Linked DNA regions of Homo sapiens. The protein of the gene in region 1 interacts with the protein of each later gene in a biochemical or structural test. Each region holds a gene or a part of one and is shown in the gene's direction. Other genes may lie near its edges.

Region 1 (6,909 bases):
TAGTAGAGACGGGCTTTCACTATGTTGGCCAGGCTGGTCTCGAACTCCTGACCTCAGGTGATCCACCTGCCTCAGCCTCCCAAAGTACTGGGATTACAGGCATGAGCCACCATGCCTGGCCTCCATTTTTTATGTGAGTAGAAAAGGAGAGATGAAACCAAAGCTAGAAAGCCTATGATTCCAATAACCTAGTGCGGACACTTCCTAACTTCTATGTGAACAACTAGCCTAGGTTGGGCCTCCTGTATTCTGTTCTCAATCGTGCCTGGGTGTCAGTGGGACTGTACTTATTTTGGCATGACAGGAGACGCTAGGTCATGGTGCCCCATTTCCCTCTTGCTGTAGCTAGGCCTCATAAATGGTGAACTTCATACATGCTATCATAGAGTTCTGCTATCTAAACTCCATTTACAACAGTTCTTCAAGCAGTGTTTCTAATTCCAACCTATAGATTTACCACTTGCATCTGTATTTATATCCATAATCCCCAAATATACCATGGTATCTTATTTAGCACCAAGCTGACTAGCATCACAAATCTGTTTCCTATGGAAGGTGCTGGAGTTAATCTTATTCTAGACTGCATAGGCGGATCCTACTGGGAGAAGAACGTCAACTGCCTGGCTCTTGATGGTCGATGGGTTCTCTATGGTCTGATGGGAGGAGGTGACATCAATGGGCCCCTGTTTTCAAAGCTACTTTTTAAGCGAGGAAGTCTGATCACCAGTTTGCTGAGGTCTAGGGACAATAAGGTGAGTGATGAATGAAAAGAAAACATGTGATTTAACCCAGAAAAGTGTGGTTCATTTACATTACCCCGAGAAAGGAAGCTCTACCTTAGATTACGGAGGTTAGTTTCTATGAAGAAACCTCCCCCTCTGAAGATAAAGAGGGAACCCGATTTCAGAGAACTGATTCAGATTGGTTGATAGAAGCTTCAGTATCATGAAAAGAAGTGTAGCTGATACTTCACAGGTTATCTGAACATTCTAACAGAATGAAGAAAGCACTGACTATATTAGGAAGTATTTCGAGTAGTTCCAAGACTTTGTTTTCAAAGGCAGAATTCATCTCAGTGTGCTAGAAAGTCTCTTAGGTGAGTAAAAAAATAAGTAAGCCTTGGCCTTCAACAGATTATAGGTTCCATGCCGGGCACAGTGGCACTTGCTTGTAGTCCCAGCTACTTGGAAGGCTGAGGCAGAGGATTGCTTGAGTCCAGGAGTTTCAAGGCTGCAGTGAGCTATGATTGCACCTGTGCATAGCCACTGTACCCCAGCCTGAGCAACATAGCAAAACCTCATCTCAAAAAAAAAAAGATTATATGCTCCTGAAATATTCCATCTGGCAGTCTAGCAGGTACCACCTTTGGGAATGTTTCCACCATAGGGTTTTGCACCAGCTGAGGGACAGGAGAGCTTAAGCATCCTTTTTTCACTAAGCCTATATGAGTCCTATCTGTGGCTGCCTCCTGGGTAAAGACACTTTATTTAAAAACAATTCTTAGGCTGTCAGTGACACTAACATTTTACTCCAGGCTTCAGTCTTTATCTGGTACAGAACAGAAGTTACACATTTGGAGGTACAAGGGAGCCAGAGATCACCTGTAACCCCCCTTTAGCTCCTATGTGGTCTCTTCAGCTGGCTCTAGAAACCAAATTGATACCAGCAGATTGACAGGAGAAAAGCATGTACTTTTTTTTTTTTTTTTTTTTTTTATGGAGACAGGGTCTTACTCTGTCACCCAGGCTGGAGTGCAATGGCACAATCAGCCTCCTGGGTAGCTAAGACTGAAGGCATACCACCATGCCTGGCTTGTATTTTTTATAGAGACAGGTTTTCACCATGTTGCCCAGGCTGATCTCAAACTCCCAGGCTCAAGTGATTCGGCCAAAGTAAGATGCTTTTGTAATTTTTAGACAAAGAACAATAAATTTGAGAAGAAATAAGACAAAATCTGGCTAGGGATAGTAAATTTCTAGGGAAGTCACTAGGAGATATATGGGGGTGGGGGGTGTAAAACTAGTGGAAGATAAGGGTTACTTCCTTAAGTGTATTTATTCAGTTCCATTGCAGCCCCGTTTCCAGTCTCTGGTGATAAGGGCTTTTTGCCCTAGTATGGGGAGGGTACCCCTCTCAGAGGAATCTTTATGACTTGCTACATGCAAGAAGAGACAGGTCAGCTAGCCTTTTCTGAAACTACAATTTCTCCAATGCTTTCACCTCAAAATTAACAATATACCTATCGGACATATTCTGAGATGGCACATGACTCCTTCAAGGGTATTTCACACACATGCTAGGAAGTGAGGGGTTAAGTGTCCCTGTGTGCTTTTTCAGATACGTGGCTTCAGAGAGAGCAAGAAGGCTGAGGAGGATGAGGAGGGCAGGGTGAGGCTCTCTCCCCAGGCTGATGATCTCCTTTCCCTTGTCTTAGTACAAGCAAATGCTGGTGAATGCTTTCACGGAGCAAATTCTGCCTCACTTCTCCACGGAGGGCCCCCAACGTCTGCTGCCGGTTCTGGACAGAATCTACCCAGTGACCGAAATCCAGGAGGCCCATAAGTACATGGAGGCCAACAAGAACATAGGCAAGATCGTCCTGGAACTGCCCCAGTGAAGGAGGATGGGGCAGGACAGGACGCGGCCACCCCAGGCCTTTCCAGAGCAAACCTGGAGAAGATTCACAATAGACAGGCCAAGAAACCCGGTGCTTCCTCCAGAGCCGTTTAAAGCTGATATGAGGAAATAAAGAGTGAACTGGAAGGGTGGCACGCGGACTGGGGCCGCCGCGGCGGGGTTGAGGTGGGAGTCCGGACGGGCGTCGCAGCGGGGATTACTGAGGCCCGATCAGCTGACGCTCAACCTGAGGGCCCCTCCAGGGACGGAGATTCTGGGTATAGTTACAGCGTCAGCCGTGACACAAGCCGCCAGAACCCCACATATTCCGCCTTGCGCACAGCTAGAGGCCCAGGCCCACCACCTCCGGCACCTGCCCGCGCGCCCCGCAACCAGTGGGCACCACAGCAGGCCCCAGCCCTGCCCGCTACTCACCTGGGCCCCACCCCACCTCTCGCCGCCCTCCTCAGGCCCCACCACCTCCCGCTACACATCTGAGCCCCGCCCCACCTCCACCACTTTCCTCAGCCCCAACCACCTCCTGCTACACTTCTGGGCCCCGCCGCACCTCCACCACCCTCCTCAGGCCCCGATCCCTTCCGCTACTCACCTGGGTCCCGCCCCAGCTCAGTCCTCCTCAGGCCCCGCCTTCGCCCGCTACTCACCTGGGCCCCACCCCACCTCTCGCCACCCTCCTCAGGCCCCACCACCTCCCGCTACACATCTGGGCCCCGCCCCACCGCCACCACCCTCCTCAGGCCCCGCCCCTTCCATTACTCACTTGGGTCCCGCCCCAGCTCACCGCCTTGCTCAGGCCCGGCTCCCTCCCGGATACTCACTTGGGCCCCACCCCAGCTCTCCGCACCCTCCTCAGGCCCCGCCCCCTCCCGCTACTCACCTGGGTCCCGCCCTACCTGTCATAACCCTGCTCAAGCCCCGCCTCCTCCGCTCCCCAGTTACTCACCTGAGACCCGCCCCAGCTCTCCGCCCTCCTCAGGCCCCGCCCTCTCCACCCGGGTTCCTCTGCTCAGGGCCTCCCCGACCGGAACATCTCGCCTTTTGGAGGCTACGCCCCGCCCTTTACGGTACAGAGCCCGGAAGTGTCTTGGACTCTCGCCTTTCCATCTTCCGGCCTCGAGTCTCGCTCAGGCTCGGTTTTACCCCGGAGTCTATTCGAAGGGGGCTGCTACGTCAGCGCGTCTCAGCGTAAGACGGCGCTATTCCGCTGTAACAGCTTCCGGCGGGTCCTGGATGTTGATGTCCTGCATCTAACGCGGTGTAACCCCCGAAGCCGAGCGAGCTCCGGAGGAATTTCAGTATCTGCTACGGTAACTTCATCAGCCCGCCAAGATGGCGATGCAAGCGGCCAAGAGGGCGAACGTGAGTATCGGGTGTTCTGCGGAGGGTGGGAGAACTTCGGGTTTGACTTTCTTAGCGGCGTGGATCGGAGCATTCTTGCTCCTCCTCCGTCCCCAGAGCGGAGAACTCCAGAATTCCTATCCTGTCAGCGAAGACACTATCCGGCCCCATCCTCAGAGATATGCTCCTTGAGCCACATTTCTGTCCCCACCCCTTTTGAGAGTTCCTCAGTCTCTACCCTAGTGTCAGTGATAGTGTTACCCCTATAGCCTCTTTGCTTGACCCGCACCTAAGGACCTGGCGTTAGGATTATCTCCTTGACTTAAAGTCGATATCTCAGAAGAGTCCTCAACTAACTTAATGGTTCACCAACAACTAGGACCTGGGATTCCCCTCAGATCATGGTGCTTTTCGGATCCTTCATTAACACATTAATTAAAACAATATTTTTTGAGCACCTACTATGTATTCTGCTTGCCATGTGGGACATAATTCATCAATTATATTTATTGAATAGCTACTATGTGCCAGACACTAGTCTTACGTATTGGGAATACAGCAGTGAATAAAACAAGTCCTTCTGCTTACATTCTAGTGTTTGAGAGTACAGTGTTACGGAAACTTTTAAAAAAAAAAAACTCAAAAAAGAGATTAGTCAACAGTAAAACGCTTAGAGGTGTAAGATGAAGTTAGGCCGAGTGAGGTGGCTCATGCCTGTAATCCCCGCACTTTTGGAGGCTGAGGTGGGAGGATTGCTTGAGCCCAGGAATTCAAGGCTGCCTTGAGCCATGATTGTGCCACTGCGCAGCACTTCAGCCCAGGAGACAGAGCAAGACCCTGACTCAAAAAAAAAAAAAAAAACAGAAAGAAAGAAAGAAAGAAAGAAAAGACAAGCAATTGACCATTGTATATGTAAATGGAGACTTTTGGTGACCTTGATGATAGGAATCATTTCAGTGGATGAAAACTTGATTGCAGTGGGGTGAAAAGATGGTGGAAGTTGAGAAAATGGAAACAGCAAAGACACTCTGTCCATGAGTTCTCATTTAAATAGGAAGTAGGGAAATTGGATGATAGTTGACTTTTTTTTTTGAGATGGACTCTCACTCTGTCACCCAGGCTGGAGTGCAGTGGCACAGTCTTGGCTCACTGCAACCTCTGTCTCCTGAGTTCAAGCAATTCTCCTGCCTCAGCCTCTTGAGTAGCTGGGATTACAGGTGCCCACCACCATGCCCGGCTAATTTTTGTATTTTTAGTAGAGACAGGGTTTCTCCGTGTTGGCCAGGCTGGTCTCAAACTCCTGACCTCAAGTGATCCACCTGCCTTGGCCTCCCAAAACGCTGGGATTACAGGCATGAGCCACCGCACCCGGCCAGATAGTTGACTTTTTAAAAGATGTGTGATATAGGTGTATCTTTATGCCAATGGGAGCAATCCAGCAGAGTGTGCGAAACATGATATGGAAGAAAGATAGGTTGAGTTTAGAAGTGAAGGTTTTGAGTAGATGAAGGTTGGCGTAGTAATAGAGGGAAAGTAGTTGGATATAGATGAAAAGTATTTCAATTGGTCATGTCTATTTTCTCCAAGAAACAAGAATCAGGGTCATCTCCTGGGATGGGCAGGGAAGAGGGTACAGCCCAACTCAGGTGTTAGCAGGAGTGATGGTGGTAAGGTTTGCAAAGGCCTACACCCACCACCATGCCTGGCTAATTTTTTAAAATTTTTGTAGAGATGGGGGTCTCACTATGTTGTCCAGGCTGGTCTCAAACTCCTGGGCTCAAGTGATCCTCCCACTTTGCCTCCCAAAGTGCTGGGATTATAGGGACCAGCCACTGCACCCAGCCTCTGTTGCTTTTTCAAAGATCTGCCCATTTTCAGAAACATCAAATTATACCTCTTATTCTTGGCTTTTTATTATTACGTATCATTAAGAATTTTTTAAAATGCCCCTAATTATAGGGGCATTTAAATTATAATTTTTTAGAATGCCCCTAATTATAATAACAATACGTATTTCTCATTTTAGATTCGACTTCCACCTGAAGTAAATCGGATATTGTATATAAGAAATTTGCCATACAAAATCACAGCTGAAGAAATGTATGATATATTTGGGAAATATGGACCTATTCGTCAAATCAGAGTGTGAGTCTTACTGAGTCATTTAAAGAAAATGATAGCATAATCTGTAATTTCAGAATTATAGCTGACGATGAGGCCACCCTGTGCTGTGTGCAGTGCGACAACCCTTACCAAGAGCCTTGAGACTAGCAGATTGAGATCAGAGAGATGAGATCTTTTTGAAGGGGGGAGAAAACCTACTGAGACCCTAATGATCCAGCTCAATGAGAGCCAAGAAGAGGATTTGAGTTTCCTCAAAGCATTCATTGAAGTAGTAATGAATGCTTTGAGGAAACTGGTTGAGAAGGGAAAGAACTAACATTTATTGCATACCTGTTATTTGTAAAGCTAGCTTGTTACACTGTGTTTTTTGTATGCAGCAGCTCTATAATTTTCTCAACAATCATCACTGTCTCTTTAAATAACCCCAGAATTTCTGAATAAACTAAGTAAAAGAGTATAAAAGTAACAGAAAAAAATGATATTTTCAACTACAGCTCTTTCAATTGAAGATGTAAAAGTATAGAGGAAAACATCTAATTACAAGCATTCACGTTTTAATTTAATATAAAGATTGGGGTTCATACCTTCAAGTGATATTTACTGGACATCTACTGAATACCATTAACCATAATAAGTGCTTTTATTTGGATCAACAAAACTATAGCCCTGAGAGTAAAGTACCTTTCTATCTTACAGTGCTTAGTGGTAAAATCTTCTGACTCTAAATTGAACCTCTACATTACACAGTACCATAGCCTCTGACACCCGAACTCATATGAAAGGGCTAGTGACTTAAGAGTCCATCTGAAA
Region 2 (6,516 bases), on another chromosome or scaffold:
ACTATGCTGGCCAGGTTGGACTCAAACTCCTGACCTTGCGATCCACCCATCTGGGCCTCCCGAAGTGCTGGGATTACAGGCGTGAGCCATCACGCCTGGCCTTATGTTGTCCTTTTACAAGTGTTTCTGGGATGTGCCCATGGTGAAGGCAGTAACGCCAGTACCTCATTTCACGCACTTGGATCCTGCCTACCCCCAGTAAGTGGGAGAGATTGGGCCAGATAAGACCACACCATTGGGCCAGGCACAGTGGCTCATGCCTGCAATCCCAGCACTTTGGGAGGTTGAGGCAGGTGGATCACCTGAGGTCAGGAGTTTGAGAGCAGCCTGGCCAACATGGTGAAACCCCGTCTCTACTAAAAATACGTGGTGGCACACATCTGTAATCCCAGCTACTTGGGAGGCTGAGGCAGGAGAATCGCTTGAACCCAGGAGGCAGAGGTTGCAGTCAGCTGAGCCGAGATCACACCATTGCACTCCAATCTGGGCAACAAGAGCGAAATTCCTTCTCAAAAAAAAAAAGTGAGTACACCATTGAATCTTCTGTTGTTTAGGGAGATGAGAAAGGTCCTGAAGTACCAAAAACATAATGATTTGGACCTTTCTCTTGTCCTCAACTCTGATTTGCATTTACCTTCAACTATCAAGTCACATTCTGCTGTCCGAAAATCCAAATCTAGTCTACTAGCTAGATTACACTTCATTAGAGGCAGGACTTTGGTTTGTCTATTTGCCTCTCCTTTTCTTTAGGTCATGATACAGTGCCTGACATGCGGTGCAAGCATGGTACTTGTATTTTGGTGCTGTCCCTGTAAGTCATCCAGAGGTATCCCCTGTAGGGTGTCTAGCACATAGTAGGTGTTTGTTAATTACTTCTGGTCTATAAGCAGTGAAAGCATGATAAGGTAACAGCAGTGAAGAAAAGTAACAAACAGTTCCTAAACTAGATACAGGATATCTGTTTAAGCCATTTAAGACAGCATTTTCTTGAATTTTTGCATGGGTCTAGCTAGAGTTCTTATGTAGCGTAAGCTTGCAACCAGAGAATGCTTAATAAATGTTAATTGCTGTCTGACTCCTCTGAATGTGGTGTGTGAACTGATACCTTTGGATCCTCATGCCTCATTCTGTCCCTGAGACTTATTCTAGATGTCACTTCCCCTACTTCACATTATACACGAATGTTCTGAGGACATTTGAGATGGAATCTAGCTCACATTTTCAGCACTAGTTTCCAAGGAACACAAAGAAGTCCAGTGACATGATCCAGGCTCTCAGCCTTACAGATCATCATGTAGATTAAGTGGCCGAGGCTCTTTCCTATGCAGAAACCTTCCTACAACCAAGGTACCCCTTGTTATTATTGTCTTCCTGCAACTTTCATAATTGATAAGGGAATTAGACAGGTAAGCTAAGCTAGGTATTCTCATTTATAATTTTTCAAAGCCACAAGAATAACCAGGAGACAGGGATGATGTCTATGGACATTGCTACCAGAGGACTGATTTGTAGGTTCTTATGGTGCCACATCATGTAATCCCCTTAATCTTGATTCCTTTATTCCTTTTGTTTACCATTTTCCTCAGTTCGCCCAACCAGAAAATAAGAAAAATAGCACTAACATTTATGAAGCTCTTAATATATGCAAGGTACTTAGCTGAACATTGTTTTCCAAAAGTTCTGTGTGATACAGATGAGGATGCTAAGGCTTAGAGATGTTAAGCAACTTGGTTAGCCCAAGGTCACGTGGCTAATAAGTGACAGACCCAGGACTAGGGCCTAGGTGGTCTGACTCTTTTTTTTTTTGAGACGCAGTTTCTTTCTTGTCACTCAGACTGGAGTGCAATGGCACGATCTCGGCTCATTACAATCTCCGCCTCCCAGGTTCAAGCGATTCTCCTGCCTAAGCTTCCCAAGTAGCTGGGATTACAGGCACATGCCACCATGCCTGGCTTTTTTTTTTTTTTTTTTTTTTTGAGACAGAGTCTTACTGTGTCTCCCAGGATGGAGTGCAGTGGTGTGATCTTGGCTCACTGCAACCTATGCCTCCTGGGTTCAAGCAATTCTTCCGTCTCAGCCCCCTGAGTAGCTGGGATTACAGGCGTGCACCACCACGCCTGGCTAATTTTTTGTTTTTAGTAGAGACAGAGTTTCACCATGTTGGCTAGGCTGATCTTGAACTCCTGACCTTGTGATCCACCCACCTTGGCCTCCCAAAGTTGCTGGGATTACAGTCATGGACCACCGTGTCCAGCCTAATTTTTGTATCTTCAGTAGAAATGGGGTTTCACCATATTGGTCAGCCTGGTCTCAAGCTCCTGGCCTCAGGTGATCTGCCTGCCTCGGCTTTCCAAAGTGCTGGGATTACAGGCGTGAGCCACCACGCCCGTCGTGACTCAGTGTTTCTTAACCTTTTATTTTTTTTTTCTCATCATTGCACCCCTAAGGAGAAAGGTTAAAAGTTAATGTAAATTAATTAAATTTTGGGGCTGGGCAGGAGCCTACCATCTTAAAGCTAAGCTGTAAGTAGGCCAGGGGCAGTGGCTCACGCCTGTAATCCCAGCGCTTTGGGAGGCCCAGGTAGGCGAATCATGAGGTCAGGAGTTCGAGACCAGACTGACCAACATGGTGAAACCCCATCTCTACTAAAAATACGAAAACCAGCTGGGTGCGGTGGTGGGTGCCTGTAATCCCAGCTACTCAGGAGTCTGAGGCAGGAGAATTGCTTGAACCCAGGAGGCAGAGGTTGCAGTGAGCCCAGATAGCGCCACTGCACTCCAGCCTGAGCGACAGATGAGACTTCACCTCAGAAAAAAAAAAAAAAAGCTAACCCGTAAGTAAAGAACAGAGCTGTGCAGATTGGAGGATTGGGTCATACCATTACTTGGTACCTTCCAGGAATATTTGGGTATCTATAAGGATAGTTTGTAAACCTTGACCTGATCCAGTCTTCTTCTTTTGCAGCTGAGGAGTAATATAAGTCCCAAGAGAAGCAACTTGCCCACATTTGCACAAGTCAGTAAGGCACAGTTTAAGCTATCATCATATCATGAGTTTCATAGCCTCTCTAAAGAGTTGAGAGTCCTGTTATTATGTCTAATATCAGGCCTTTGTCCAGGAGAGGCAGCTAGTGCCTCATTTTTACGAGGACATGAAATATAGATTACGTTGCTTACTTGGGTTCACCTAGCAAGCTATTGGTAGGCGGCTTCCTTGGTACACCAGGCTTCAGAGATGGAAGTGCTCAATGTAATGACTCGATACTTCTTTTCTAGGAGATCCTAAAATGTTAGTGTTAGTTGCAGAGATTTTTGTAGTTGTTGATGTCTGCCCCCAAAGAAGGATATTAGTTGAGTTAGAAATGAGATGGCTAAGGACTTGATTAATTCATACTATCACCTAATATCACAGGACTCAAACTCTGACATGGGTGTTTAATAAAATCAACAGACCTGTAAGGGTTTTCCAGTTACAGCTTCCCCGGTTTTTCTCCCATCATCCCTAATCAACTGATGGAGTCATCATTTCTATATAACACAGCTTCCCAGGGGCTTCACTGAAAGCACTCAAGCTCATCAAATGGCCAGGGCAGCCTGTCATGACAAATTAGTGCATGGTCTGTCAACAGCCATCTATCTCTAGCCAGTAGTGCTCTGTACCCCCAAGACCATGTGTCAAATTAAGTGAATTAATGAAGACACATAAAACCCATTAGTCTCCTATGGTATTTAAAATGTAAGGGCCAGGCACGGTGGCTCACGCCTGAAATCCCATCACTTTAGGAGGCCGAGGTGAGTGGATCAGGAGGTCAAGAGATCAAGACCATCCTGGCCAACATGGTGAAACCCCATCTTTACTAAAAATACAAAAATTAGCTGGGCATGGTCGCGGGTGCATGTACTCCCCACTACTCGGGAGGCTGAGGCAGGAGAATTGCTTGAACCCGGAAGGCGGAGGTTGCAGTGAGCCGAGATCATGTCACTGCTCTCCAGCTTGGCAACAGAGCAAGACTCCGTCTCAAAAAAAAATAAAATATAAGGTATGGCCGAGCACTGTGACTCACGCCTGTAATCCTAGCACTTTGGGAGGCTGAGGCAGGCGGGTTGCCTGAGCTCAGGAGTTTGAGACCAGCCTGAGCAGCATGGTGAAACCCTGTCTCTACTAAAATACAAAAGAAATTAGCCGGGCATGGCGGCGTGTACCTGTAGTCCCAGCTACTCGGGTGGCGGAGGTTGCAGTGAGCCGAGATCGCGCCACTGCACTCCAGCCTGGCGACAGAGCGAGATTCCTTCTCAAAAAAAAAAAAAGAGTTTCATAGTCTACCTCAACTGTGTCATAGCAGCAGACATGGCTGAGAATCCAGCATTCTACATGAATTGCAAGTCATTGGATAGAGGGTAGGCAGGCCCTGAGCACATTCTTAGGTGTTTAGTAAATTATTGATGATAGATCAAATAGGATAATTGGTAAGATAAATGGCTAAACCATTAATCCAAAGGTTATAAAATGGTCTTTTTTTCTTTTTTTGAGATGGAGTTTCTCTCTTGTTACCCAGGCTGGAGTGCTGTGGCGTGATCTCAGCTCACTGCTACCTCCGCCTCCTGGGTTCAAACGATTCTCCTGCCTCAGCCTCCTGAGTAGCTGGGACTACAGGCACGCACCACCACGTCTGGCTAATTTTTGTATTTTTAGTAGAGACGGGGTTTTACCATGTTGGCCAGGCTGGTCTCGAACTTCTGACCTCAGGTGATCCACCTGCCTCGGCCTCCCAAAGTGCTGGGATTACAGGCATGAGCCACCGTGCCCGGCCTATAAATGATCTTTCATAAGTGCTAAGAGATAGGGAAGAAACAGTGCTGATCTGGGCCTCCCAATTAAGGAGATAACTGGTGTTTGGACACATTTACAAACCCATTTATTGAGTTCTTCAAATACTAAGATGAGAATTTGAACTCTGTGACCAATTTTTTTTTTTTCAAGAGATGGGGGTCTCGCTATGTTGCCTACAGTGGGGTACAGTAGCTGGCTATTCACAGGCATCATCATAGCCCACTAGTCTCGAACTCCTGGGCTTCAGCAATCCTCCTGCCTCGGCCTTCGAGTAGTAGCTGGGACTAAAGGCACATGCTACCACACTGGGCTTAAATTTTTTATCTTAAGTCACTCTTGGTTCAGGCTCAAAGACTTAACAACTTCTCTGTTCTGTTTTCCAGAGAGATGGCTGCCCAAAGATTGTCAATCTGGGGAGCTCTAAGACAGACCTCTTCTATGAACGCAAAAAATACGGCTTCAAGAAGAGGTGATTGGTGGGTGGCCCCTTCCTCCCCCCAACATCAGTCTGCTGCAGCTGCCAGAAAACATGCCTACTACTACCAGCAGAAAGGGAGCAGAGCCCAGAGCATCACCAGGAGTGCCTGCTAGTGTACTGGCAGCTTGCCACCCCCTCCTCTCCCTTCACCCAGACACGTGGTAGGGATGGAAAAGGATTCTTCACAGAGCACTCTGGCACACCATATCGGAGAAAACTTGATAGATTAGTTAATGGTTTTTCTTGAATTCGAGAAGCAAAGATCTGTTCTCCATATTGGTATGTTCTCCCTCAACCAAGATCTTCTAAAAAGAAATAATATTTTAGTCTTCTGCTTGAGGAACTGACTGTGAAGCGACGCCCAGTGAAAAACATGTTCTTGCAGCAGCTCTGGTGGCAGCTGTCCTTGAGGAACCTTTGGTGTGTGGTGGGAAGCTATCAGAACAAGAAATGTAGGCATTTCCCGTTTTTTTTGGGGGGGGGGTGGGGGGGCAGGGCTCTGCCCTCTTGAAAGGCATTTACTTGTTTAACACTTGTCCAGCTACAGTGGGGTACAGTAGCTGGCTATTCACAGGCATCATCATAGCCCACTAGTCTCATATTATTTTCCTTTTGAGAAATTGGAAACTCTTTCTGTTGCTATTATATTAATAAAGTTGGTGTTTATTTTCTGGTAGTCACCTTCCCCATTTAACTTTAACTCTAGGAATTTATTTTAGTCACCCAGGAATTTGTGATTCAAAACAGAGGTAGTGGGATTGGTTAAGTACTTTGTCCTCTTATTACCACTGGAAGGAATTCAAAACCACCCATACCTTTCATTATAGATAGATCAAAGTCATCTTTAGAAACGTACTATTTTTTCCTTCCTGTCCAACTTTAATTTTGAACTGAAGAGATAGCTTCCAGTTATGGTGGAGGCTGGGCACAGTAGCCCATGCCTGTAATCCCAGCACTTTGGGAGGCTCAGGCAGGCGGATCTTGAGCCCAGGAGTTCAAGACCGGCCTGGGCAACATGGCAAAAACCCATCTCTATGAAAAATATGAAAACTAGTCAGGTATAGTGGCATGCACCTGTAGTTTAGTCCCAGCTACTCAGAAGGCTGAGATGGGAGGATCCCTTGAGCCTTGGAGATTGAGGCTGCAGTGAACAGTGATCCCGCCACTGCACACCAGCCTGGGTGACAGAGCAAGACTGCCTCAAAAAA

What was found. The genes of interacting proteins can lie anywhere in the genome.
Region 2: the proteins of SF3B6 (region 1) and PHF5A form a complex in vitro, tested with the Homo sapiens proteins (one study listed by BioGRID).

The regions. Positions count from the first base shown.
Region 1 is NC_000002.12:24,073,287-24,080,195, reverse strand, and holds the start of SF3B6 (splicing factor 3B subunit 6), read left to right. Parts: upstream 1-3,869; 5' UTR 3,870-3,966; coding exon 3,967-3,996; intron 3,997-6,001; coding exon 6,002-6,120; intron 6,121-6,909. Other genes in the region: TP53I3 (quinone oxidoreductase PIG3), read left to right, coding at 556-752, 2,435-2,617.
Region 2 is NC_000022.11:41,459,185-41,465,700, reverse strand, and holds the end of PHF5A (PHD finger-like domain-containing protein 5A), read left to right. Parts: intron 1-5,213; coding exon 5,214-5,303; 3' UTR 5,304-5,984; downstream 5,985-6,516.